Linked DNA regions of Homo sapiens. The protein of the gene in region 6 interacts with the protein of the main gene of each other region in a pairwise test. Each region holds a gene or a part of one and is shown on either strand. Other genes may lie near its edges. The genes, in order: TEF, ATL1, ZNF366, UBASH3A, FBXO42, DNM2 and FOXA2.

Region 1 (3,500 bases), on a different chromosome or scaffold from region 6:
GAACTCCTGACCTCAGGTGATCGACCTACGTTGGCCTCCCAAAGTGGGGAATGCTTTCTTTGTGCCAGGGCATAAGCACTATTCAAGTGCTACCTCCATTACCTACTAGCCTGGGCAACAGAGTGAGACGCCATCTCAAAAAAAAAAAAAAAAGAAAGCATTCCCACCACCTGGCCAGGACAAACATCATCTTCAGAGTCTGTCCTTATTCCTCCTCCTTTTACATTTTATCTCTGGGGGTTTGTTTTCATGCTCCTTGGACACGAACCTACCAAAGGAGACATGGCTCCTGTTGCAGGGGTTCTGCAAAGCTTTCTGCAGTCTCTGAGGCATACAGGCTGATAGCTCCTGCCAGTCGGTATGTCACCCCAGGAATCCACACCCAATAAGTTCTCATACTCTATTTTTTTTTCTTTTTATTGTGGAAATTTTTTCAAACAAAATACAAAAGTAAGAGACGACTATAATGAACCTCTATGTAACCGTCACCCAGCTTCAACAATTCTCAACTCAGAAGCAGTTATTTTCAATCAAATTATAAGTATTTCAATATGTATCTAAAATATAAGGGTTCTTTTAAAAAAAACATAACGAAAATACTAGTTTTACATCTAAAGTTGACAATAAATCCATCAACATTCAGATTTCCAAAGTTGTCTCATAAATGGTATTTTACAGGCCGGGCGCAGTGGCTCACGTCTGTAATCCCAGCACTTTGGGAGGCCGAGGTGGGTGGATCACGAGGTCAGGAGATTGAGACCATCCTGGTTAACACGGTGAAACCCCATCTCTACTAAAAAGTACAAAAAATTAGCCGGGTGTGGTGGCGGGTGCCTATAGTGCCAACTACTCGGGAGGCTGAGGCAGGAGAATGGCGTGAACCCAGGAGGCAGAGCTTGCAGTGAACCGAGATTGCACCACTGCACTCCAGCCTGGGCGACAGAGCAAGACTCCATCTCAAAGAAAAAAAAAGATCGAGACCATCCTGGCCAACATGGTGAAACCTCGACTCTACTAAAAATACAAAAATTAGCTGGGCATGGTGGTGCGTGTCTGTAATCCCAGCTACTTGGAGGCTGAGGCAGGAAAATCGCTTGAACCCGGGAGGCGGAGGTTGCAGTGAGCCGAGATGGCGCCACTGCACTCCAGCCTGGTGACAGAGCAAGACTCCATCTCAAAATAAATAAATAAAAGTTTTTTTTTTTTTTCTGTAGAGTCAGGGTATCACTGTGTTGCCCTGGCTGGTTTCAAATTCATGGCCTCAAACAGTCCTCCCACCTGGGCCTCCCGAAGTGTTGGTTGAAATTACAGGCATGAGCCACTACACCCAGCCGCTTTGTTAAGTTTCATTGCTGAATAGTAGTCAATTGTACTAACGTACCACAGCTTATCCATTTAACCGTTGAAGGACATTCTGATTTTGGTTATGAATAATGCTGCCATGAACATTCATGTGCATGTCTTTTTTTTTTTTTGAGACGGAGTCTTGCTTTTGTCGCCCAGGCTGGAGTGCAGTGGCGGGGTCTCAGCTCACTGCAACCTCCGCCTCCTGGGTTTAAGCGATTCTCCTGCCTCAGCCTCCCAGGTAGCTGGTATTACAGGTGTGCGCCACCACTCCTGGCTTATTTTTGTAGAGATGGGGTTTTGCCATGTTGGCCAGGTTGGTCTCAAACTCCTGACCTCAGGTGATCCACCTGCCTCACCTTCCAAAGTTCTGGGATTACAAGTGTGAGCCACTGTGCCTGGCCCATCTACATGTTTTTTGGTAAATATATATATGCGTTTCTTTTGGGCATTTGCTTAGGAAGAGAATGGCTAGGTCATTGGACATGCATATGTTCAGTTTGTGTAGACCCTGCCAAATAGCGTACAAAGTTGTTATATCCATTTGTACTCACACCAGCAGGGCATTGGAGTTCCATTGTCAGCCTTTGATTTTGACATCTTTTGTAATGGTGGACCTATGAGAGAATTATATTTCAGGCAAGTTACCAACAGATCTATTCCCTTTCCCTCTTCTTCCAGCAAAGTCATTTTAAGGTCTCATTGTCATCTTTTTTTTTTTTTTTTTTTTTTTTTGAGATGGAGTCTCACTCTGTCACCCAGACTGGAGTGCAGTGGTGCGATCTCGGCTCCCGCAACCTCCGCCTCGCAGGTTCAAGTTCTCCTGCCTCAGCCTCCTGAGTAGCTGGGAATACAGGCGCCCACCACCACACCTGGCTAATTTTTGTATTTTCAGTAGAGACAGGGTTTCACCGTGTTGGCCAGGCTGGTCTTGAACTCCTCACCTCAGGTGATCCACCTGCCTCGGAAAGTGCTGGGATTACAGGCGTGAGCCACTGCGCTCAGCCCTCATTGTCATTTTCTAGAATTTGTTCATAGAGGTATCCATGGGGAAATGAGAATTCCTCAAAATCTTGTCCCCAGGCCTCTTTGCAAATTTTCCCCTTTTGTTTCCTGCGGCTTTCTCTTATCCTGTCCCTGAAACTTAACCACATCTTGCCACTTGGTTGTTGCTGAAGGGCACCCAGGCATGGCGTCACTTTGAACAACATTCTCATGTGGTAGGTACCTGAGCTGCTTGTCTTGCAGGTACTAGGTTTGGCATGCCCGAAACTGCCTACAGTTACCATGTGGGTCCCTGGTCATTCACTCCTCTGACACTCAGATGTCTCTGTAATTAACCCCTGTCTAATAGGATACAATGAATTTATGTGCATAATCCAATTAAAGCCTAAGTCTGATCATGCCACACCTCTGCCCAGAGCCCTCCAGGTGTTCTATCTCAGGATAAAAGTCAGAATCAGCAGCACCATTGACATTTAGACCAGATGATTTTTTGTTGGGGTTGGAGGCGTGACTGACCTATGCATTGCAGGATCTTCTTTTCTTTTTTTTTTTTTTAAGACAGTCTTATTCTGTCACCCAGGCTGGAGTGCAGTGGTGTGATCTCAGCTCGCTGCGACCTCTGCCTCCCGGGTTCAAGCGAGTCTCCTGCCTCAGCCCCCTGAGTAGCTGGGATAACAGGCACGGCCGGCTACTTTTTGTATTTTTAGTAGAGACGGGGTTTCATCGTATTGGTCAGGCTGGTCTCGAACTCCTGACCTCAGGTGATCCACCCACCTCAGCCTCTCAAAGTGCCGGGATTACAGGCATGAGCCACCACACCAGGCCGGCATCTGACTTTTTTTTTTTTTTTTGAGAGGGAGTCTCACTCTGTCGCCAGGCTGGAGTGCAGTGGCACCATCTTGGCTCACTGCAATCTCTGCCTACTGGGTTTAAGCAATTCTCCTGCCTCAGTCTCCTGAGTAGCTGGGACTACAGGCGCATGCCATCACGCCCAGCTAATTTTCGTATTTTTAGTAGAGACGGGGTTTCACCATGTTGGCCAGGATGGTCTCGATCTCTTGACCTCGTGATCCACACGCCTCGGCCTCCCAGAGTGCTGAGATTACAGGTGTGCACCACCACGCCTGGCCCATCTGACATTTTTATATATC
Region 2 (3,500 bases), on a different chromosome or scaffold from region 6:
TGCCCATTTTAAAATTAGGTTATCTTTTTCTTCTTGCTTTGTAGGAGTTTTATACATATTTTTTATATAAGTCCTTTGCTGATTGTCTTATAGATCTCTTTTACCACTTTTTGCATGACTTTGATCTCTATGGTGTATTTTAATAAACAGACATTATGTATTTAAACGTAGTCCATTTAAACAATATTTTCCTTTATGGCTTGTACTTTTTATATTTAAAAAAATCTTCTCTTACCTCAAAGTTATAAAATCGTCTTCTATATTATCTGGTTTTAAAATTTTACACTTCATTTTTTTTCAGTTTTTAAAATTTGTGGTAAAATACACATAACATAAATTTTACCATCATAACCATTTTTAAATGTACAGTTCCGTGATACTAGTACACAAGTAAAATATTGTTGTGTAGCTATCACCACTGTCTATCTCCCGAACTCTTCATCTTGCAAAACTGAAACTCTGTGCCCATTAAACAGTAACTCCTCATCCCTCCTCATGGCTACTAGCAGCCACCATTCTACTTTCTTTCACTATGACTTTGACTACTCTGTGTACCTCACGTTAGTGGAATGATACATTTTTTTTTTTACTGGCTTTTTCACATAGCAAAATGTCCTCAAGTTTCATCCATATTGTAGAATATATCACAACTTCCTTCTTTTTTAAGGCTGAATAGCATTCCGTTGTAAGTATACACCACATTTTTTTATCCATTCATCTGTTGACAGACACTGGGTTGCTTTCACATTTTAGCTATTGTGAATGATGCTTCTATGAACATGGTGTACAAGTATCCCTTTGAGACCCTGCTTTCAATTCTTTTGGGTATATACCCAGAAGTGGAATTGCTGGATCTTATGGTAATTCTATTTTTAATGTTTTAAGGAACTGCTATACTGTTTTCCACAGAGGTTGTACCATTTTATGTTCTCATCAACAGTGCACACAGGTTTAAATTTTTTCATATCTTCGCCAACACTTGTTATGTTCTGTTTTTTAAAAAATAGTTGTCATTCTAATGGATGTGATGTGATATCTCATTGTAGTTTTGATTAGCAATTAATATTATGATTTCTCTTGTGATTTTTTCTTTGATCATTTGTTGTTTAAGAGTGTGTTGTTTAATTGCCACAAATTTGTGAATTTTCCAGTTTTCATTCTGTTACTGATTTCCAACTTCATCTCATTGTGGTTGAAGAAAATATTTAGTATTATACCTATCTTTTTAAAATGTATTGAGACTTAATATGTGGACTCCCTTATAGTCTATCTGGAGAATGTTCCAGGTACACAAGAGAAAAATGTGTATTCTATTGTTGTTGGCTAGAATGTCTGTATTTGTCTGTTAGGTCTAATTGGCACATTGTGTTGTTCAAGTTCTCTATTTCTTTGCACGTCTTTATTTCCTTTTTGTTTGTTTGTTTTATCCATTATTGAGAATAGGATATTGAAGTCTCCAACTGTTAGTATAGAACTATTTCTTCTTTCAATTCTGTCAACTTTTGCTTCATATATTTTGATACAGTGTTCCTAGGTACATAGATTTTTGTCATTGTTATATATTCAAATGCCGTATTAAAACTTTTATTAGTATATGATGTCCTAGCCAGGTATGGTGGTATGCACCTGTAGTCTCAGCTATTCCAGAGGCTGAGGCAGGAGGATCCCTTGAGCCCAGGAGTTTGAGGCTATAATGTGCTATGATTTGGCCTGTGACTAGCCACTGTACTCCAGCCTGGACAACATAACAAGATATTGTCTCTAAAAAAAAAACCAGTTCTTTGTTTTCTGTTAACTTCTGTGGTTTTTTAAAGGCTATCTTTTCTGATATTAGTATTGCCACCTCTACTCTCTTTTGGTTTATATTTACGTGGAATATCTTTTTCCACCCTACCACTTTCAATCTGCTTGTGTCTTTGGATCTAAAGCAAAGCTCTTATAGACAGCATAGAGTTGGATCATGTTTTTAAATCCATTCTGCCAATCTCTTTCTTTTGATTGGAGAGTTTATATCTGTTTACATTTAAAGTAATTACTGATAAGGTGTGACTTCTTTTGTTTGTCTTGCTGTTTTCTATTTGTCTTATAGCTTTTTTGTCTCTCATTTCCTGCATTACTGCGCATTACTCTCTGTTGTGTTCAGTTGATTTTTATAGTGTAATGTTTTAATTCGCTTATCATTTCCCTTTGTGCACATTTTTCTAGCTTTTTTTTGTGGTTACCATGGAGATTACATTTAACATTCTAAAGTTGTAACACTCTAATTTGAATTTATACTAGTTTAATTTTAATAACATACAAAAATTCTTCTCCTTTACATGTCCATCCTCACCCCTTTCAGTTATTGGTATCATAAAAGTATACATATTGTGTGTCCAAAACACATAAACTAGTAACTGTTTTTTTAAAATGCACTAGTTTCTCAGCTGGGCATGGTGACTCATGGCTATAATCCAAGCACTTTGGGAGGATGAGGTGGGAGGACTGCTCGAGCCCTGGAGTTCAAGACCAGGAATTCGGGTCAATATGGCAAAACCCTTTCTCCACAAAAAAAAAAATGCAAAAATTATCCAGGTGTGGTGGTGCATGCCTGTAGCCCCAGCTACTCCGGAGGCTGAAGTAGTAGAATCACTTGGGCCCAGGAAGTTGAGGCTGCATTGAGCCATGATCATGCCACTGCATTCTAGCTTGGGCAACAGAGAAAGACTCTGTCTCATTGAGCTGTGATCATGCCACTGCATTCTAGCTTGGGCAACAGAGAAAGACTCTGTCTCAAAAAAAAAAAAAATACATTACTTTCTTAAATTATATAGAAAACAAAATGTGGAATTACAGACCAAAATTACAAGTATTATTATATTAGCTTTTGGACTTACAGTTTTTTTTAAAAGTATTAGTCTCTTAAACCATATAGAATACCAAAGATGAAGCTACAAACTGTTGTTAAAATAATACTACCTTTAATGATTGCCCATGTATTTACCTTTACTGAGATTTTTATTTCTTCATGTGGCTTTAAGTTACTGTGTAGTGTCGTTTCATTTCAACATGCAGGACTGATTACCATTAGCATTTCTTGAAAGGCAGGTCTAGTGGTAACAAACTCCAGCTTTTGTTTATCTGGGGATGTCTTAATTTATTCCTCATTTTTGAGGGACAGGGCTGCTGGATATAGGATTTTTAGTTGACAGGTTTTTTTTCTTTCAGCACTTAGACTATGTCTGCCCACTGCTTTTTTGCTTCCAAAGTTTCTGATGTGAAATTTGCTGACAATCTTGTTAATAATCCCTTATATGTGATATGTCACTTCTCTCTTGTTGTTTTCAAATTTTTCTCTTTGTCTTTGGCCTTTGACAGTTTGATTATAATGTGTCTCAATGTGGGTCTCTTTGAGTTCATCCTACTTAGAATTTGCTGAACTTCTCAGATGTTTATCTTTCATCAAACTTGGAAAGTTTTCAGCTATTATTCTACAAATAATCTCTCTGCCACTTTCTCTT
Region 3 (3,500 bases), on a different chromosome or scaffold from region 6:
GCTGTGTCAGCAGGGGACATGTCAGGCACCACAGGAGTCACCAAGCCTGCCCCTTACTTTGACACCTGTCTGAAAGGAGAGACCCATGTGCGGCTTTATTTCACATAATAAAGGAATATTTCATTCCAGCTTGCTTCAGGTTTAAGAGTGGAATGTGTACATTGCCAGGATGACTTTATAACATTGAGCTACTCAATATGCTTTTTAAAATCATGTTTATGTCATTCACTCCCTATGCCTTAGTAGCACACCTTACTCAGAGTGGATACTCAGAAACGATTAGATCTGAGTTAAGCATTAACATCCCTTCTCCTATGAGGCTTTGAATATCCTCATTTTCCAGCAGCAAAGGCCCAAGCAAGGGAGTAGCAGTGAAAATTGGTTTCCTTACACAAAGAAAAGACCCTAAAAGTCACTTTCCAATCACCATTAGTAGATGTAATTACAACTCAGATTGAAAAGCTGCAGCAGAATGGGTCTAGTGCTCACTCCTTCAGTGAGTACCTATGTAACTTGAGAATGTCATTTCATTTATCTGGACTTTGGTACCCTGATCTTAAATGGGGACAATGGCCAGATGAGTTCTCAGGTTTCTTCCCAAACTAGTCCACTTCCCTTGCTACCATCACCCCTTGTGGTTTTGTGGCTGGATTTACACTGGAGCCCAATTTGATTCAGCCCTAGGGTCACCCCAAGAGGCCAGTGCTATCCATATTGATAACTGGGTTTGCAAGGAGAAAGAAAAGCGATATTTTGAACAGCCCTAGGATAAATGAGGGTCCATATTAAGCAAGTACTACTCTTCATAAATTAGTACTGATAAATAGCCATAATCCTTAAGGAAAAAGAGAATTTTAAACAAAACCAAACCAAAACACACAAGTTTCTTTCTCTTTAAAGGAAAATTGCCAAGGATGCAGAAGGAAATGAAGATGATCAAAGACGAGGATGTGCATTTCGACTTGGCTGTGAAGAAGACCCCCTCCTTTCCCCACTGCCTGCAGCCAGTGGCTTCTCGGGGAAAGGCTCCCCAAAGACACCCCTTCCCGGAAGCTCTCCGAGGGCCATTTTCCCAGTTTCGGTATGAACCTCCCCCAGGAGACCTAGATGGGTTCCCCGGGGTCTTCGAAGGAGCAGGGTCTAGGAAACGGAAGAGCATGCCCACAAAGATGCCCTATAACCACCCTGCAGAAGAAGTCACCCTCGCCCTCCACTCAGAGGAGAACAAAAACCACGGCCTTCCCAACCTCCCTTTGCTGTTCCCGCAGCCCCCGCGCCCCAAGTATGACTCTCAGATGATCGACCTGTGCAACGTGGGCTTCCAATTCTACCGCAGCCTGGAACACTTTGGGGGCAAGCCCGTCAAGCAGGAACCCATTAAGCCCAGCGCCGTGTGGCCCCAGCCAACGCCCACTCCATTCCTGCCCACGCCCTACCCCTACTACCCCAAAGTCCACCCGGGCCTCATGTTCCCCTTCTTCGTGCCCTCGTCCTCGCCCTTCCCCTTCAGCCGGCACACCTTCCTGCCCAAGCAGCCCCCGGAACCTCTGCTGCCCCGGAAAGCCGAGCCCCAGGAGAGCGAGGAGACCAAGCAGAAGGTGGAGAGGGTGGACGTGAACGTGCAGATCGATGACAGCTACTACGTGGACGTGGGCGGCTCGCAGAAGCGCTGGCAGTGCCCCACCTGCGAGAAGTCCTACACCTCCAAGTACAACCTGGTCACCCACATCCTGGGCCACAGTGGGATCAAGCCGCACGCGTGCACGCACTGCGGGAAGCTCTTCAAGCAGCTCAGCCACCTGCATACCCACATGCTGACCCACCAGGGCACGCGGCCCCACAAGTGCCAGGTGTGCCACAAGGCCTTCACCCAGACCAGCCACCTGAAGCGCCACATGATGCAGCACAGCGAGGTGAAGCCGCACAACTGCCGCGTGTGCGGCCGCGGCTTTGCCTACCCCAGCGAGCTCAAGGCCCACGAAGCCAAGCACGCCAGTGGGCGCGAGAACATCTGTGTGGAGTGCGGCCTCGACTTCCCCACCTTGGCCCAGCTGAAGAGACACCTCACCACGCACCGGGGCCCCATCCAGTACAACTGCTCCGAGTGCGACAAGACCTTCCAGTACCCGAGCCAGCTGCAGAACCACATGATGAAGCACAAGGACATCCGGCCCTACATCTGCTCAGAGTGTGGCATGGAGTTTGTGCAGCCGCACCACCTCAAGCAGCACTCCCTCACCCACAAGGTACTGCGGGGCCTCTGGTGGGGCGGACGGGGCCTTGGGAAGAGGAGCGGGGCCCTGAGCAGAGCACTGGGGAGCAGGACGCCTGTGCCGCTCTGCACCTTACCCCGAGGAGGTGGGCAACCCCGGACAAGCGGTCCCTTGGCCGAGCCCTGAGGTCCTTCCTCACGTTTAAATAAGAGAGAACGATTCTCGACCAAGCCCTTTGCCCCAGCAGCCTTCTAGACTCTAAGGTAGGCCTAGAAATAAATAATGCAGACATTTGCAGAGGAGATGAGGAAGGATGCTCCCTAGCCTCCAAGAATCTTGCAGATTCGGTTTCTAGAAACTTCATCCAAGGCACTAGCATGAGTAAGTCATCAGACCCTAGATCAGCTCTGTGCCTGGGATGTGCCAGGGAGCACCTTCTGGATAATTCTCTTCGTCTTGTACTGTTGAAGCAGTGGAAAACTTTTTGGATTGTTTTCTCCCTCAACTGTGAGACCTGCTTCATATGCAAGTTCTCCAAGGGAAGCAGAGCTTGGCTGAGGCCGGCAGGGCCTATACCTCCCTGCGTTGGACCCGTGCCTAGCTGGGTGAAGTGCCCTGTGGTTTACATTGTAGGAGGCATGAGAAAGCATCCTTCTCTGTTTGGTTTTGTTTGATCTTCTCTGTGCTCAGGTCTTCAAGGGGAAATACAGGCCCAAGAGTCTGAGTTCAGCCCAGTTTGCAACCATAGCCCTGGAGTCATTCAGGCTGAACTAAAACAAGGCCCTAGTGGTGTTCCTGAAATCTTACCCCAGCTAAAGTATGGAACCTGCTCTGAGCCTCCGAGAGGGAGTTTTGCCCCCACTGACTCCCACTCTCACACCCTTAACCTCAAGTGGTTTTCTTGGCAGGAAAGACTTCTAGCAAGCCAGAGTTTCTAAAGCATTCTTTAATTCTGAAAGGTCAGGAGAGGACTTTGCCCAGCCAAGATAATGTTTCTGCTGTGCTATAATACGTTTCACTTCTTAGGTTAGGACAAAACACAGGGTATTTTCTGGCTCTGCCACAGAGATGAAATGTGTGGCTGCCTTGTGGGCTCTGCACAAACAGCTCCTGCCCTACAAAAGGTACCTGTAGATACTATCCAGAGGGGAGTCGCCTGCCAAGTGCAGGAACCATCAACAAAGGACCCAGACTGGGATTCAGCCGTAAAGGGGACCATTCGCTAACTTCAGGGGCTCCTTTATATGTGGGAAAGGAATCAAAAGTGCATTTTAGAGCATATGAAGA
Region 4 (3,500 bases), on a different chromosome or scaffold from region 6:
AGTCTAGGTGCTGCTGGAAGGAGATTTTACAAATGTGACTAGAACCCCTAATCAGTTGAGCTTAAATTAATCAAAAGCAAGGTTATTCTGAGCAGGTCTGACTTATGCAGTTGGAAGGCATTTTTTTTTAAAAACTTAGGCTTTCCTCACACTCAGAGACTTCAATAGCAGCTGTGTCTGTGACTGCTCTCCCATCACCCGGGTGGTCCTTCCAACTGCCACATGTGGACAACAAGCTTCAGCTTGCCCATGGGTTTTCAGCCTAAGTAGGCTCCTCCCTTCCTGCCTGTCTGCCCTTGCTTAGCTAGCCCCAGTAATTCCATAAGGCAATTCATTGTAGTAAATCAATATAGATGTGTGTATACATATATACCTTTCCATATATATATGTGTGTGATACATGTGTATATAATATAAAATACTATGTATGTATAGTCAGCCCTTTGTATCTGGAGGTTCTGCATTTGTGGATTCAACCAACTGCAGGCCAAAAATATTCAAAAGATTAATCAATTAAAAAATAGCAATACAATTTAAAAAATACAAATAAAAAACAATACCGTATAACAACTATTTGCATAGTATTTATACTGTATTACATATCACAAGTAATCTAGAGATGATTTAAAGGATACAGGGTGATGTGCATAAGTTGCATGTAAATACTACAGCATTTTATATCGGGGACTCGAGAACATGAGGATTTGGGTATCTGTGGGGGTCCGGGAACCAATCCCTTGCAGATAGCAAGGGACAACTGTACATATACTTATATGTATTATATATTGTATGAAAGTGACTGGTTCTGCATCTCTGGTTAAACTTTTACTAAATTTGGTATCAGGAATGGGGTGCTACTCTAACAAACAGTGGATGTTCTTCAACTTCAGATGGGGTTATGTTCCAACAAACCCATCATAAATTGAAAATGCATTTAATGCACCTAACCTACTGAACATCACAGCTTGGCCTAGCTTACCTTAAACACGCTCAGAACACTTACAGTAGCCTATGATAGGGCGGAATAATCTAACACAAAGCCGATTTTATAATCAAGTGTTGAGTATCTCATGTAATTCGTTGAATGTTGTACTGAAAATGTAGCACAGAATGATTGTATGGGCACTTGAAGTACAGTTTCTATTGAACCCATATCACTTTCGTAACATTATGAAATCCTAAGCCAAACCATTGTAAGTTGGAAACCTTCTGAACTTAAAATGTGGAAACAACTTTGGGACTTGGCAGCGAGTAGAGGCTAAGAGACTTTTGAGTAGCACAGCAGAGAAAGCCCAAATCACCATGAACAGACTGCTAGAGGAAATAGGGATGCTAAAGGTGAATCCTCCGGGGAGAACTCAGAAAGGAATGTGACAGGTGTTCCAGGAAATCGGAGCAAGGAGGATCCTTCCCATGTGTGCCAGAGAGTTTAATGAAATTGTCCATGGAGAGCAGGACTTGTAAGCGATGATGTTGGTCACATAGCTAAGGCTATTTCCAAACAAAGTGTTAAGTGTATCACCTGGTTTCTTCATGTTATTTATAGTGAAGCGGGAGAGGAAAGAGATAAATTGAGGGAAGAACATCGAACAAAAAAGAACCAGTATCTGATGATTCTGAAAATCCTTAGCCTCACCAGATGATGCTAAAAGGTGCTAAAATTAAGAGATTCTTCAGCTGATGAAGAAGCAACTCACCAGGAGCCCTACAGCTTCAAGGAAATCACTCCCACCAACAACTGTGTATGCTCAGGCGAGGGTGTGAAGCCTCAGTGGGGAGCCCAGCCCTGGCAGGCACCTTGATTACAGCCTTGAGACCCCGAGCTGAGGACCCAGTGAAGCTGGACTCTGACTCTCAACCCATAAATACCATAAGATAATAATTGCACTTTGTTTTAGTGGTAATTTATTATACAGTCATAGAAAACTAATAATACGACCTAGGACTTTACATTTCATACACGGAGCAGAAGAATAAATAAACCCAAGCTCAGGACCTCTGAGTATAATTTATTATGTGTGTGATAAAGAAGTAGTATTTTGCAGTAATTTGGGGATTACCATCTCAAATTACTCTAATGCAGAGTAATTCATTCTTTTTTGAATGTTATCATCAGAAAACCAGGGACGAACCAAGATGTTTACTATATACCTGCAGGAATAATTTTGTCAGCATACAGAATGCAATTTTACCAATAATGGAATGGTCTAGAAGCACACTGTTGGCAGGTGGGCACTCTCACACAGTAACTCAGAGAGAGATGACGGGGCTGCAGCCAGAGGCAGCACTCACCTGTGCTTCACCCACGTGTCAGACTCACTGGCTCGATCCGTGTAGTTTTCCGGCAGGAAGCCCCGGCAGCCCGTCCGCTGTGAGATCCCAATCACCCAGCCCTCGCTGGCTTCGTCCTGCTGCGTGGGGTCCACAAAGATGTAGTCACCAGGACTTAGCGTCAGCTCATCCACGTTCTGGGGTTTGTACTGGAATAGGGCTCTCAGGGTCTAGAAAAGAGGCAAAGGGGTTTCACGTCTCGAGCAAAGATTTACATTGGAAAATGGCAGCAATAGGAGGCCTATCACCTGCCACCTCCTGCTTTCTGCCCCTCCAATGTGTTCTGTGTCTCCAAGACTCCATCCAAAGCTTTGTCTGGCAATATATAGCACAGAATGTAATGAAACGCAGCATAGAATTCTTTGGATAGATTTAGAAATACATTTTGGGGCCAGGCGCGGTGGCTCACGCCTGTAATCCCAGCACTTTGGAAGGCCGAGGTGGGTGGATCACAAGGTCAGGAGTTTGAGACCAGCCTGGCCAATATGGTGAAACCCCGTCTCTACTGAAAATACAAAAATTAGCTGGACATGGTGGCGGGTGCCTGTAGTCCCAGCTACTTGGGAAGCTTGAGGCAGGAGAATCACTTGAACCTGGGAGGCGAAGGTTGAAGTGGGCGCAGATCACTCCACTGCATTCTACCCTGGGTGACAGGGTGAGACTCCCTCTCAAAAAAAAAAAAAAAAAAAAAAGAAAAAAAGAAAAAAAAAAGAGATACATTTTGGGATCTATCCATCATCCATCCATCTAGGTACTTTTTTGTCTACAAAAGATCTGAAGGCATAAGCAGACTTTCACATCCGCCTTCCTCGGTGTGAGGTTATTGACACCTCATACGATACAGAACATGGTGGATTCATTCACACGTGCTCTCTGGGTCTGAAAGGAGCATCACACACTTCGTTTCTAAACCCATCGATTCATGGGCAGGAAGTCCCAGAATGAGGTTTCACTCAAATCATTCTTTAAAGTGAATTGTGCTCACTTTGGCAGCACATATAACTAAAATTGGAATGCTGCAGAGAAGATTAGCATGGCCCCTACATTTAAAAAATAAATAAATAAAAAAGAATTAATAAGCAAAACATGTATTCATAGATCTTTACAATAGTCCTTTCCTTTCTGTCTTTTTTTTTTTTTTTTTTTTTTTTGCCAGTCTCGCTCTGTTG
Region 5 (3,500 bases), on a different chromosome or scaffold from region 6:
GAACTTGATATAATTGTAATCGTATAGTATATATTCTTCTTCTTCTTTTTTTTTTTTTCTTCGAGACATGGTCTAACTCGGTTGCCCAGGCTGGAGTCCAGTGGTGTGGTCATGGCTTCCTGTAGCCTCAAACTCTTGGGCTCAAGTGATCCTCCTGCTCAGCCTCCTGGGTAGCTGGGACCACAGATGTGTGCCAGCACACCCGGTTAATTATTTTTTTGTAGAGATGGTGTCTCACTTTGTTGCCCAGGCTGGTCTCAAATTCCTGACCTCAAATGATCCTCCTGTTTTGGCTTACTAAAGTGTTGGGATTATAGGCATGAGCCACTGTGCCTGCCCATTCTTCTGTCTTCTGTTTGTTTGTTTGTTTGTTTGTTTGCTTGTTTGAGATGGAGTCTTGCTGTATTGTCTAGGCTGGAGTGCAGTGGCCAGTCTTGGCTAACTGCAACCTCTGCATCCCAGGTTCAAGTGATTCTCCTGCCTCATCCTCCCAAGTAACTGGGATTACAGGCACATGCATCACCAAGCCTGGCTAAGTTTTGGATTTTTGTTTGTTTGTTTGTTTGTTGAGACGATCTCACTCTATTGCCCAGGCTGGAGTGCGGAGTGATCTCTGCTCACTGCAACCTCCACCTCCTGGGTTCAAGTGATTTTCATGCCTTAACCTCCCTAGTAGCTGGGACTGCAGGCATACGCTACCACGCCCAGCTAATTTTTGCATTTTTAGTAGAGATGGAGTTTCACTGTGTTGGCCAGGCTGGTCTTGAACTCCTGACCTCAGATGATCTGCCTACCTTAGCCTCCCAAAGTGCTGGGATTACGGGTGTGAGCCACTGCGCCCGGCCTAATTTTTGTATTTTTTAGTAGAGACGGAGTTTCACCATGTTGGTCAGGCTGGTTTTGAACTCCTGACCTCAGGTGATCCGCCCGCCTCAGCCTCCCAAAGTGTTGGGATTACAGGCGTGAGCCACTGCATCCGGCCTTCTATCTTCTTTTGCTTAACATTATGTTTGAGAGATTTATTTATATGTATATAACCTGTGGTTCTTTGCTCTATATTTCATGGCGAATGTACCACAATTTATTTGCTCTGTTGTTGATAGACATTCATGTTGTTCTAGTTTTTTACTGCCTGGATCTCTTAATGATTCATATTTTCTATTGTAAATACTGCCTTGTATTTGGTATTTTAGCAAGTGAAGTCTATTCTTGGAACATTTACTATCTTTTTTTTTTTTTTTTTTTTTTTTGAGAGTCTTTCTCTGTGTCCCAGGCTGGAGTGCAGTGGCATGATCTCGACTCACTGCAACCTCTGTCTCCCAGGTTCAAGCAGTTCTCCTGCCTCAGCCTCCTGAGTAGCTGGGATTACAGGCACGCGCCACTACACCTGGCTAATTTTTGTATTTTAGTAGAGATGGGATTTCGCCATGTTGCCCACGCTGGTCTCGAACTCCTGACCTAAGGTGATCTGCCGGCCTCAGAATCCCAAAGTGCTGGGACTACAGGTGTGAGCCACTGCACCCAACCAAGAACTACTATATTTTGTAAGTGGAAATAACCACTATTAAAAACAGAATGCTATAAATAGAATGATGTCTTTTGTTTCTAAAGTTGATGTACTAGAGCGATGTGAAAACAGTAACAAAAGAGATATTTTGTGGCAAAGTTATCTCGGGGTAAACACCACAGTTGCAGGCACCGCTGGCAAGTATTCTCCGGGCAAACAGGAAAAAGGTTAAGTGAATCGTCTTGCATAAAAGTTTAGAAAAACTGTTCTTTCTTTTCTTTCTTTCTTTTTTTTTTTTTTTTTTGAGATGGAGGTTTGCTCTTGTTGCCCAGGCTGGAGTGCAGTGGCATGATCTCGGCTCACTGCAACTCTGCCTCCCAGGTTCAAGTGATTCTCCTGCCTCAGCCTCCCGAGTAGCTGGGATTACAGGCATGTGCCACCATGCCCAGCTAATTTTCAATTTTTAGTAGAGACGGGGTTTCTCCATGTTTGTCAGGCTGGTCTCAAACTCCCAACTTCAGGTGATCTGCCCGCCTCGGTCTCCCAAAGTGCTGGGATTACAGGTTTGAGCCACCATGCCTGGTCGAAAAACGGTTATTTCTTAACCCATATTCTCAGAATGTTATTACTTTTTGCAAGACCCAGAGTTAGTTTTTCCTTCAAAATTTGAGGTCTTAGATCATTGTTACTGGCCAAGGAGGCTAGTTGCTCTTCCCTTTGCTGTCGGTCAGTCAGATCCTTGAGTTAGAAGAATTGTTGGAGAACAAGTTTTCTGGTTTACGATTATACCAGAACTTGGCTGCCACTCTGGTTTTCAGTGAAGAGAAAAAATGTAATCAAAAGCCTTTGGGGATGGGCTTGGTATTTGAGCTGTACCTGTCGAATTAAGGTGGCTCACAAGTGGTATTGGAAAGTGCTGAAGAGCAGATTTCACACTGAGAGTGGAAACGAAATTACAAAGAGCTTGGATGTACATGCCTGAATTGTTTTTGAGCTGCTTTCAGTGGAATACTGATATTTATGTTTTACCTATTACAGCTGTTGAGTGGAATGTCATGGCCAGCTCCTCGGACAGTGAAGATGACAGTTTCATGGCTGTGGACCAGGAAGAAACTGTGCTGGAAGGGACAATGGATCAAGATGAGGAGCCCCACCCAGTATTGGAGGCTGAGGAGACTAGACATAATAGGTCCATGTCGGAGCTGCCAGAAGAGGTTTTGGAGTATATCCTGTCCTTTCTCTCACCGTATCAGGAACACAAAACTGCGGCCCTTGTCTGCAAACAGTGGTATCGACTTATCAAAGGTACTGTGGATAGGAGAAAGGTTTATTTATTGATTTCAAATTTCACTGATTTATTTTTAGACTCCAAATTTAGTTTTTTTCCTCCCTTAAATGTATTATGGTTATAAAATCTAGCATTAGACGATACTACCCGGTTTTCTTTCTTACCCTGGTTAGTTTAATGAACAGCTTGAATACTGAAGTATCTAATCCCATTTGCATTTTAAAATGAGGATTGTTTTTAAAAGCTTCATATTCTTAGAGTTGATCTGGTTAATTGTATTGTTCTTTTCTTTTTTTTTTTTTCAGACGGAGTCTCACTCTGTCGCCCAGGCTGGAGTGCAGTGGCGCAATCTCGGCTCACTGCAAGCTCTGCCTCCCGGGGTCATGTTATTCACCTGCCTCAGCCTCCAGAGTAGCTGGGACTACAGGCGCCTGCCACCACGCCCGGCTGATTTTTTGTATTTTTACTAGAGACGGGGTTTCACTGTGTTAGCCAGAATAGTCTCAATCTCCTGACCTCGTGATCCGCCCGCCTCAGCGTCCCAAATGGATTAATTGTATTGTTCTTGAATGGGCAAAATAGAAATGGATATGGGATAATAGTAATAGCCAATGTGAACATAGCTTTTATCACGTGTCAAGCACTATTGTAACTGCTTTACATTCTCACAGCAAACTCTGACTAGAAGATCCTGCATTTTATAGA
Region 6 (3,500 bases):
GCTGGGATTACAGGTGTGTACCACCCTGCCTGGCTAATTTTTTTTTTATTTTTTATTTTTTTTATTTTTAGTAGAGACGGGGTTTCACCATGTTGCACAGGCTGGTCTCGAACTCCTGAGCTCAGGCAATCCACCCACCTCAGACTCCCAAAGTGCTAGGATTACAGGCGTGAGCCACCACGCCCAGCCCATTCAGCTACTTTTTTGTATTTTTAGTAGAGATGGGGTTTCACCATGTTGGCCAGGCTGGTCTCGAACTCCTAACCTCAGGTGATCGCCTGCATCCCCCTCCCAAAGTGCTGGGATTACAGGTTTTAGCCACCTTGCCCAGCCAAATATCCTGATTTTAAAACTCTGCATTCAAACAGCAGCCCGGGGCCATAGACATCCTCTGGCCCAGAGGCACAGATTGCTACCATGATGGGTTCCTTGCGATAAGTTTTAAATTTGTTTTTCAATAAATGACACCTGCATGTGGCTCAGAATTCAAAAATTACAGAAAGGTATATCGCAAAAACCTACCTTGTCAACCAGTTTTGCACACATATTTTAGGTTCTTCAGATGACAATGCAAACATGAGCTGGGTGTGGTTTCACACACCTGTCATTCAAGCTGCCTGAAAGGCTGAGTCAGGAGGGTCACTTGGGCCCAGGAAGTCGAGGTTGCAGTGAGCTATGATCACATCTGTGAATAGCTACTGCACTTCACCTGGGTAACATAGCAAGACCCTCTATCTTAAAAAAAATGTGTAAGCAAAAAACATGTAAGCAATTGTGATTGTATCTATGTATATGTTGTGTATGTGTTTATCACTCCTTTTCCTTAAATTGTTAGCATAACATAAAAATCACTTATGCTTTTTTTGAGATGGAGTTTCACTCTTATTGCCCAGGCTGGAGTGCAATGGTGCAATCTTGGCTTACCGCAACCTCCACCTCCCGGGTTCAAGTGATTCTCCTGCCTCAGCCCCCTGAGTAGCTGGGATTACAGGCATGCGCCACCTCACCCGGCTAATTTTGTATTTTTAGTAGAGACGGGGTTTGTCCGTGTTGGTCAGGCTGGTCTCGAACTCCCGACCTCAGGTGATCGCCTGCCTTGGCCTCCCAAAGTGCTGGCATTACAGGTGTGAGCCACTGCGTTGGCCTATGCTTTTTTTTTTTTTTTGTATGCCTCTCAGAATGTTTCTTTATTATATATTTATTTTTTTTTTTTTTTGAGACAGGGTTTAACACTGTTGGCCAAGCTGGAGTACAGTGGTGAGATCTTGGCTCACTTCTTCTCCTGGGCTCAGGCGATCCTCCCGCCTTAGTCTCCTGAGTAGTTAGGACAACAGATGCACACCATCATGCCAGGCTAATTTTTTATATTTTTGGTAGAGGTAGGGTTTCGCCATCTTGCCCAGGCTGGTTTCGAACTCCTGAGCTCAAGTGATCTACCCATCATGGCCTCCCAAAGTGCTGGGATGACAGGCATGAGTCACCGCGCCTGGCCTCATCCATTTGTCTTTTGTTTTTGTTTTTTTGAGACAGTCTTGCTCTGTCGCCCAGGCTGGAGTGCAGTGGTATGATCTCAGCTCACTGCAACCTCCACCTTCTGGGTTCAAGTGTTTCTCATGCCTCAGCCTCCAGAGTAGCTGGGAGTACAAGTGTGTGCTACCACGCCCAGCTAATTTTTGTATACTTAGTACAGATGGGGTTTTGCCATGTTGGCTAGGCTGGTCTAGAACTCCTGGCCTCAAGTGATCCACCCACCTCGGCCTCCCAAAGTGCTGGGATTGCAGATGTGAGCCACCGCACCCAGCCTCATCTGTTTGTCTGTAATGGTTCTTTGGTATTGGCTGAATGGATGGGCTGAAATTTATTCAGTCATTTAGGTCTATTCCAGTCTGAACTGTCCTGATTTAGAACTGTGCCATTGAAATGGAGTAGGTAGAAGGTATCTGTAGGATGGGATCCTAGAAGGGGAGTTACTGGATCAAAGGTGTGGTTCAGGCAGAGTGTCAGGCGACATCCTCAAGTCTGAGCCCCGCGCAGGAACTTTGGTAGTCAGCTGGGTGGCTGCGGGCCTGTTTGTGCCTCCCCTCTCCTGGCTCTGAATGCCTTTCCTTCTGGTTTCCCTCCCAGTGTTGAACTTGACCCTCATCGACCTCCCGGGTATCACCAAGGTGCCTGTGGGCGACCAGCCTCCAGACATCGAGTACCAGATCAAGGACATGATCCTGCAGTTCATCAGCCGGGAGAGCAGCCTCATTCTGGCTGTCACGCCCGCCAACATGGACCTGGCCAACTCCGACGCCCTCAAGCTGGCCAAGGAAGTCGATCCCCAAGGTAACCCTGAGCCTAGGGCAGTCCCCTCTTCCAGGTGCCTCTGAGCATGGGATGTGCCCAGCATCCTTGGTTCCAAGTCACTGGCGTTCTCTTTAATCCATGGCCGCTGTAGGAAAAGGCCTCCTGGAACATGGCACTTCCTCCGAGAACCAGCAGTGCTGGTGGGCATCCCCTGGGAAGTCACTGTGTGGCAGTTGGACGGTCCTCCTTGGACATGGCAGTGCCCATGTTGCCAGAGTGGGAAGCTAGCCTAGGGCTGAAGGAAGGGCCCAGCGCTCCATCGCCCAGATGCGATCTTAGGTCCCATCTAGCTGTTACTCTGCTCCCTGAGACATGGTCCCCTCTTAGTCAGAACGGGAACTTCAGTCCTAACCCAGATAGCTGATGTGAGGACTGTTGAACTTTTGGGTTGTTTCTGATCTTTGCATGGTGAGATCGTCTATTTCCCTTCGAGTTGACACCCCTGGGCCCCTCTAGTCAGATCCTTCTACTGAACCCTCACTGCAGAATGTGAGCAGGAAGGGGCCCCAGGGAGGGCACAGCTGTGGCCCCCTTGATGCCCAAATTGGCACCCACCAGAGATCTTCACTCTGGCTTCCATCTGTCCCCAGTGTCTCATGCACATGCCACACATATAACACACACGGTTAGCACAGAGCCAGGCCCTCAGCCCCCGTGGGAGCAGTTGATCTGCAGAGGTGAGACTTTGCTAGAAAGACATCCTTGACTCTGGAATGACTTGTGGAGAGGTGGAATTGGATGGGATGGTTTCCAGAGTGGAATTTTAGCCATTCAGGCAAGAGGTAGTCCTGGAAACAGTCGTGTCAAACTCAAATGTTCCCTTGGGACTTTGCCGGCACTTGGAAAGTCCAGCATCAAAATCTGGCCCAGGAATCATGTTTACGTGAGGTTTCCCAAAGCCTGCAGCAGCAGAGGTTGTCCTTAATAACACAAATGACAATAACGGCCAGCATTTGTTGAGTATTTGCCGTGTGCCAGGCTCACCCTTATGACCACCCTGTGAGATCAGGGCTGTGACCATCTTCATTCGACATGTCGGAAACTGGGGTCCAGGCCTGTGACGTTCTGGCTTTCCCAGGTGATGTGACCTGGAAGTTTCAGGGCCAACTGGACCCCAGGTGGCTTGCAGCTGCCAGCTGATGCTCTTTCCT
Region 7 (4,148 bases), on a different chromosome or scaffold from region 6:
TGCCCACTAGTTCCTATGCATTCTCTGTGTCTGAGGGGGTGGGTACAGGGCTGGATCCCCAAGGTCCAGCCAGGTTTTCAGAACCAAGAAAGAGCCTCCACATCCAAACACCTGCAATATCCCCCCACTCCAAATCTGGGCTCACAGGCTAACCCAGAACAGAAGACAATTTTTGAACCCAAGAGCTGCTGGGGAAATAAAAGTATACGATTGCTGGAGTTTCTAATTTCTATTAAGCAGTCCCTCTGGAAGACAGAGAGGACAGAGACGCTCTTGAAGTCAACTCCATATGCCCCATCATTGATTCCTGGATTCTTCTCTCCTCACCCCTCCCTCCCCACCTCCTGCCCTGTTTGTTTTAGTTACGAAATGCTGTGGGCACCTCGGTTGTGACTGAAAAGTAACCTTGAAACACGCCGGCCTGAATATCAGAGACAAATCTCAGCCTCCCAACCGTCGGCCGCTGCTAGAGGGGCTGCTTGCGCCAGGCGCCGGCCGCCCCACTGCGGGTCCCTGGCGGCCGGTGTCTGAGGAGTCGGAGAGCCGAGGCGGCCAGACCGTGCGCCCCGCGCTTCTCCCGAGGCCGTTCCGGGTCTGAACTGTAACAGGGAGGGGCCTCGCAGGAGCAGCAGCGGGCGAGTTAAAGGTGTGTACGTAGTTTTTCTAAATAGGACAGCGCTTTGCAAATTGGCTGTCATGGACTTGCTGTTTTGACAGAGAATGAGCACTGAGAGCGAAGAAACCCGGCATAAATAAATCCGGCTTTCATAGGGATCTGCCGGGCACTGAGGCTGGACGCGCCCTCCGACAGGCGCACCGGGCGCCCGGCGCGATGAGACGGGGCGGGGGCTGGAGGCCGGAGCCGCCCCAGAGGGTGGTTTCCTCCCAGGTCCCTCCTTCCTCAGGGGACTCGCTGTGGACCCGGGAGGAAAGGGGGCTCGACCAGGGATCCCGCGTGCCCGATCGCCCGCCCAGCCCGCTCCCCTGGCCCGCCCAGGAGTGCGGGGCGCCGCGGCGGTGGGGCGGACGGCAGGCGCTGAGGGGCAGGTGCGGAGCGCCGGCTGCGGCTACCTCTCACCTAGGTGTGAGCTGATTATTCAAATGGGCTGCCCCGGGTCTGGGGATTGGAGGCCCGCGCCAGCGCGCCGCGCTATATCACCAGCCTCCCACGTCACTGCGGCACTTGTCCGCTCCGCGGTCCACACCTCCTCCTCCTCCTCCTCCTCCTCCTCCTCCTCCTCCTCCTCCACCACCACCACCGCCTCCTCCTCCTCCTTCCTCCTCCTCCTCCCCACCCCCCCACTAGCCCCCGCGCCGCGCGCTTCCCGCCGCCTCGGGGCAGCTCGGCACTGCCAACCTCAGCCGCCACCCGGCAGCCCGTGAGCGCGGCGGCGGCGGGTGCTCCCTACCGCGGGGCGCTGGCCTGGGCCTCCTCCGCTCCTCGCCCCCCCCCACCTCCCGCCCACTTCCAACTACCGCCTCCGGCCTGCCCAGGGAGAGAGAGGGAGTGGAGCCCAGGGAGAGGGAGCGCGAGAGAGGGAGGGAGGAGGGGACGGTGCTTTGGCTGACTTTTTTTTAAAAGAGGGTGGGGGTGGGGGGTGATTGCTGGTCGTTTGTTGTGGCTGTTAAATTTTAAACTGCCATGCACTCGGCTTCCAGTATGCTGGGAGCGGTGAAGATGGAAGGGCACGAGCCGTCCGACTGGAGCAGCTACTATGCAGAGCCCGAGGTAAGCGCTCGTCTTTTCCAGGGGGAAGTGGAGCGGCGGCGCTCGCTCCTTCCCCAACCTCAGGACCGCTTCCCTCGCTGGCACCCCCCCACCCCGCCCCACAACCCCAGCCTTTCTGGGCAGCCGCCTTTTCCGCCCTCCTTGGAATCAAATGGGTCTCTTTTTTATACGACACACTGTTAGCCTTGAGATAATATTAACTTTGTGATCAAATATTGACTTGCGGCGCCTCCAAATCCTCTTCGTGGCCGAGCCACGCACTATCCTAACAGAGTTATGTTTGGCAGCGCGCGGCTGGGGAGGGGTGGGAGGTCGGCCGGCGAGGGGGTGGGGAGCTGAGGAGGAGAAGATGGGTAGGAGTTGGGGGCTGAAGTGGAGGCAGAGTCAAAGACTAGTGGACAAAGAGAAAGAAAGTTTTTGCCTGCAAAGCTCAGCCGCGTGTGGTTCAGGTCTCGGTTCTTTCCCTATTGCCCCGTTCAGTGCCTCCAGCCGCCCCCGCACTCCGCACAGGCACTGCCTTGCAGTTTCCCTGGGACAAGGGAGGGGGTCCCTGGAGGGAGACCGGACAGAGGGGGCCCGGGACAGTCTTCGCTGGAGGCAGCCCGAGGCGCCCCGCGCGTTGTCCCGCAGGTTGCTTGCTGCGACCGGAGGTGGCGTCCGGGGACTTCGGGCCTCGGCGCCAGCTCAGTATGCTGGTGGGAGAGTTTGGGGAGACTCTGGGGTAGGGGAATGTATTTGGGGTGCTGGCTTGGGAGTACTCCATGGGACCCCTGTTCTAGAATCTGGGCGAGGTGGAGAAGGGCTAGGAACGGGCCACATGCCCAAGCAGCAATCCGCTCGCCACCTTCCCAAGGGCGATCGATCATGACTCTCCCTGAATGAAACAGACTCGGAGTCCGGAGACTGGGCCATCGGGGACGAAAGGGCTCCCCGGAGGCCTCCCCGGACGCGGAGGCCTGGGCGGTGGGTGGGAGGTCTGGGCACCCTCCAGCCGCGGTGCTAACGCTGTCGCCTCCCTCCCGGGGCTCTGTCCGCAGGGCTACTCCTCCGTGAGCAACATGAACGCCGGCCTGGGGATGAACGGCATGAACACGTACATGAGCATGTCGGCGGCCGCCATGGGCAGCGGCTCGGGCAACATGAGCGCGGGCTCCATGAACATGTCGTCGTACGTGGGCGCTGGCATGAGCCCGTCCCTGGCGGGGATGTCCCCCGGCGCGGGCGCCATGGCGGGCATGGGCGGCTCGGCCGGGGCGGCCGGCGTGGCGGGCATGGGGCCGCACTTGAGTCCCAGCCTGAGCCCGCTCGGGGGGCAGGCGGCCGGGGCCATGGGCGGCCTGGCCCCCTACGCCAACATGAACTCCATGAGCCCCATGTACGGGCAGGCGGGCCTGAGCCGCGCCCGCGACCCCAAGACCTACAGGCGCAGCTACACGCACGCAAAGCCGCCCTACTCGTACATCTCGCTCATCACCATGGCCATCCAGCAGAGCCCCAACAAGATGCTGACGCTGAGCGAGATCTACCAGTGGATCATGGACCTCTTCCCCTTCTACCGGCAGAACCAGCAGCGCTGGCAGAACTCCATCCGCCACTCGCTCTCCTTCAACGACTGTTTCCTGAAGGTGCCCCGCTCGCCCGACAAGCCCGGCAAGGGCTCCTTCTGGACCCTGCACCCTGACTCGGGCAACATGTTCGAGAACGGCTGCTACCTGCGCCGCCAGAAGCGCTTCAAGTGCGAGAAGCAGCTGGCGCTGAAGGAGGCCGCAGGCGCCGCCGGCAGCGGCAAGAAGGCGGCCGCCGGAGCCCAGGCCTCACAGGCTCAACTCGGGGAGGCCGCCGGGCCGGCCTCCGAGACTCCGGCGGGCACCGAGTCGCCTCACTCGAGCGCCTCCCCGTGCCAGGAGCACAAGCGAGGGGGCCTGGGAGAGCTGAAGGGGACGCCGGCTGCGGCGCTGAGCCCCCCAGAGCCGGCGCCCTCTCCCGGGCAGCAGCAGCAGGCCGCGGCCCACCTGCTGGGCCCGCCCCACCACCCGGGCCTGCCGCCTGAGGCCCACCTGAAGCCGGAACACCACTACGCCTTCAACCACCCGTTCTCCATCAACAACCTCATGTCCTCGGAGCAGCAGCACCACCACAGCCACCACCACCACCAACCCCACAAAATGGACCTCAAGGCCTACGAACAGGTGATGCACTACCCCGGCTACGGTTCCCCCATGCCTGGCAGCTTGGCCATGGGCCCGGTCACGAACAAAACGGGCCTGGACGCCTCGCCCCTGGCCGCAGATACCTCCTACTACCAGGGGGTGTACTCCCGGCCCATTATGAACTCCTCTTAAGAAGACGACGGCTTCAGGCCCGGCTAACTCTGGCACCCCGGATCGAGGACAAGTGAGAGAGCAAGTGGGGGTCGAGA

The links.
Region 1: the proteins of DNM2 (region 6) and TEF interact in binary tests that used the Homo sapiens proteins (3 or more experiments, as listed by UniProt).
Region 2: the proteins of DNM2 (region 6) and ATL1 interact in binary tests that used the Homo sapiens proteins (3 or more experiments, as listed by UniProt).
Region 3: the proteins of DNM2 (region 6) and ZNF366 interact in binary tests that used the Homo sapiens proteins (3 or more experiments, as listed by UniProt).
Region 4: the proteins of DNM2 (region 6) and UBASH3A interact in binary tests that used the Homo sapiens proteins (3 or more experiments, as listed by UniProt).
Region 5: the proteins of DNM2 (region 6) and FBXO42 interact in binary tests that used the Homo sapiens proteins (3 or more experiments, as listed by UniProt).
Region 7: the proteins of DNM2 (region 6) and FOXA2 interact in binary tests that used the Homo sapiens proteins (3 or more experiments, as listed by UniProt).

The regions. Positions count from the first base shown.
Region 1 is NC_000022.11:41,388,442-41,391,941, forward strand, and holds part of TEF (thyrotroph embryonic factor), read left to right. Parts: intron 1-3,500. UniProt on the Homo sapiens protein: Transcription factor that binds to and transactivates the TSHB promoter. Binds to a minimal DNA-binding sequence 5'-[TC][AG][AG]TTA[TC][AG]-3'.
Region 2 is NC_000014.9:50,566,645-50,570,144, forward strand, and holds part of ATL1 (atlastin-1), read left to right. Parts: intron 1-3,500.
Region 3 is NC_000005.10:72,458,911-72,462,410, reverse strand, and holds part of ZNF366 (zinc finger protein 366), read left to right. Parts: intron 1-900; 5' UTR 901-914; coding exon 915-2,246; intron 2,247-3,500. UniProt on the Homo sapiens protein: Has transcriptional repression activity. Acts as a corepressor of ESR1; the function seems to involve CTBP1 and histone deacetylases.
Region 4 is NC_000021.9:42,417,402-42,420,901, reverse strand, and holds part of UBASH3A (ubiquitin-associated and SH3 domain-containing protein A), read right to left. Parts: intron 2,502-3,500; coding exon 2,293-2,501; intron 1-2,292. UniProt on the Homo sapiens protein: Interferes with CBL-mediated down-regulation and degradation of receptor-type tyrosine kinases. Promotes accumulation of activated target receptors, such as T-cell receptors, EGFR and PDGFRB, on the cell surface.
Region 5 is NC_000001.11:16,314,481-16,317,980, reverse strand, and holds part of FBXO42 (F-box only protein 42), read left to right. Parts: intron 1-1,253; exon of another isoform or gene 1,254-1,544; intron 1,545-2,545; 5' UTR 2,546-2,562; coding exon 2,563-2,812; intron 2,813-3,500. UniProt on the Homo sapiens protein: Substrate-recognition component of some SCF (SKP1-CUL1-F-box protein)-type E3 ubiquitin ligase complex. Specifically recognizes p53/TP53, promoting its ubiquitination and degradation.
Region 6 is NC_000019.10:10,773,579-10,777,078, forward strand, and holds part of DNM2 (dynamin-2), read left to right. Parts: intron 1-2,124; coding exon 2,125-2,328; intron 2,329-3,500. UniProt on the Homo sapiens protein: Catalyzes the hydrolysis of GTP and utilizes this energy to mediate vesicle scission at plasma membrane during endocytosis and filament remodeling at many actin structures during organization of the actin cytoskeleton.
Region 7 is NC_000020.11:22,581,773-22,585,920, reverse strand, and holds the start of FOXA2 (hepatocyte nuclear factor 3-beta), read left to right. Parts: upstream 1-1,348; 5' UTR 1,349-1,642; coding exon 1,643-1,729; exon of another isoform or gene 1,730-2,178; intron 2,179-2,766; coding exon 2,767-4,071; 3' UTR 4,072-4,148. UniProt on the Homo sapiens protein: Transcription factor that is involved in embryonic development, establishment of tissue-specific gene expression and regulation of gene expression in differentiated tissues.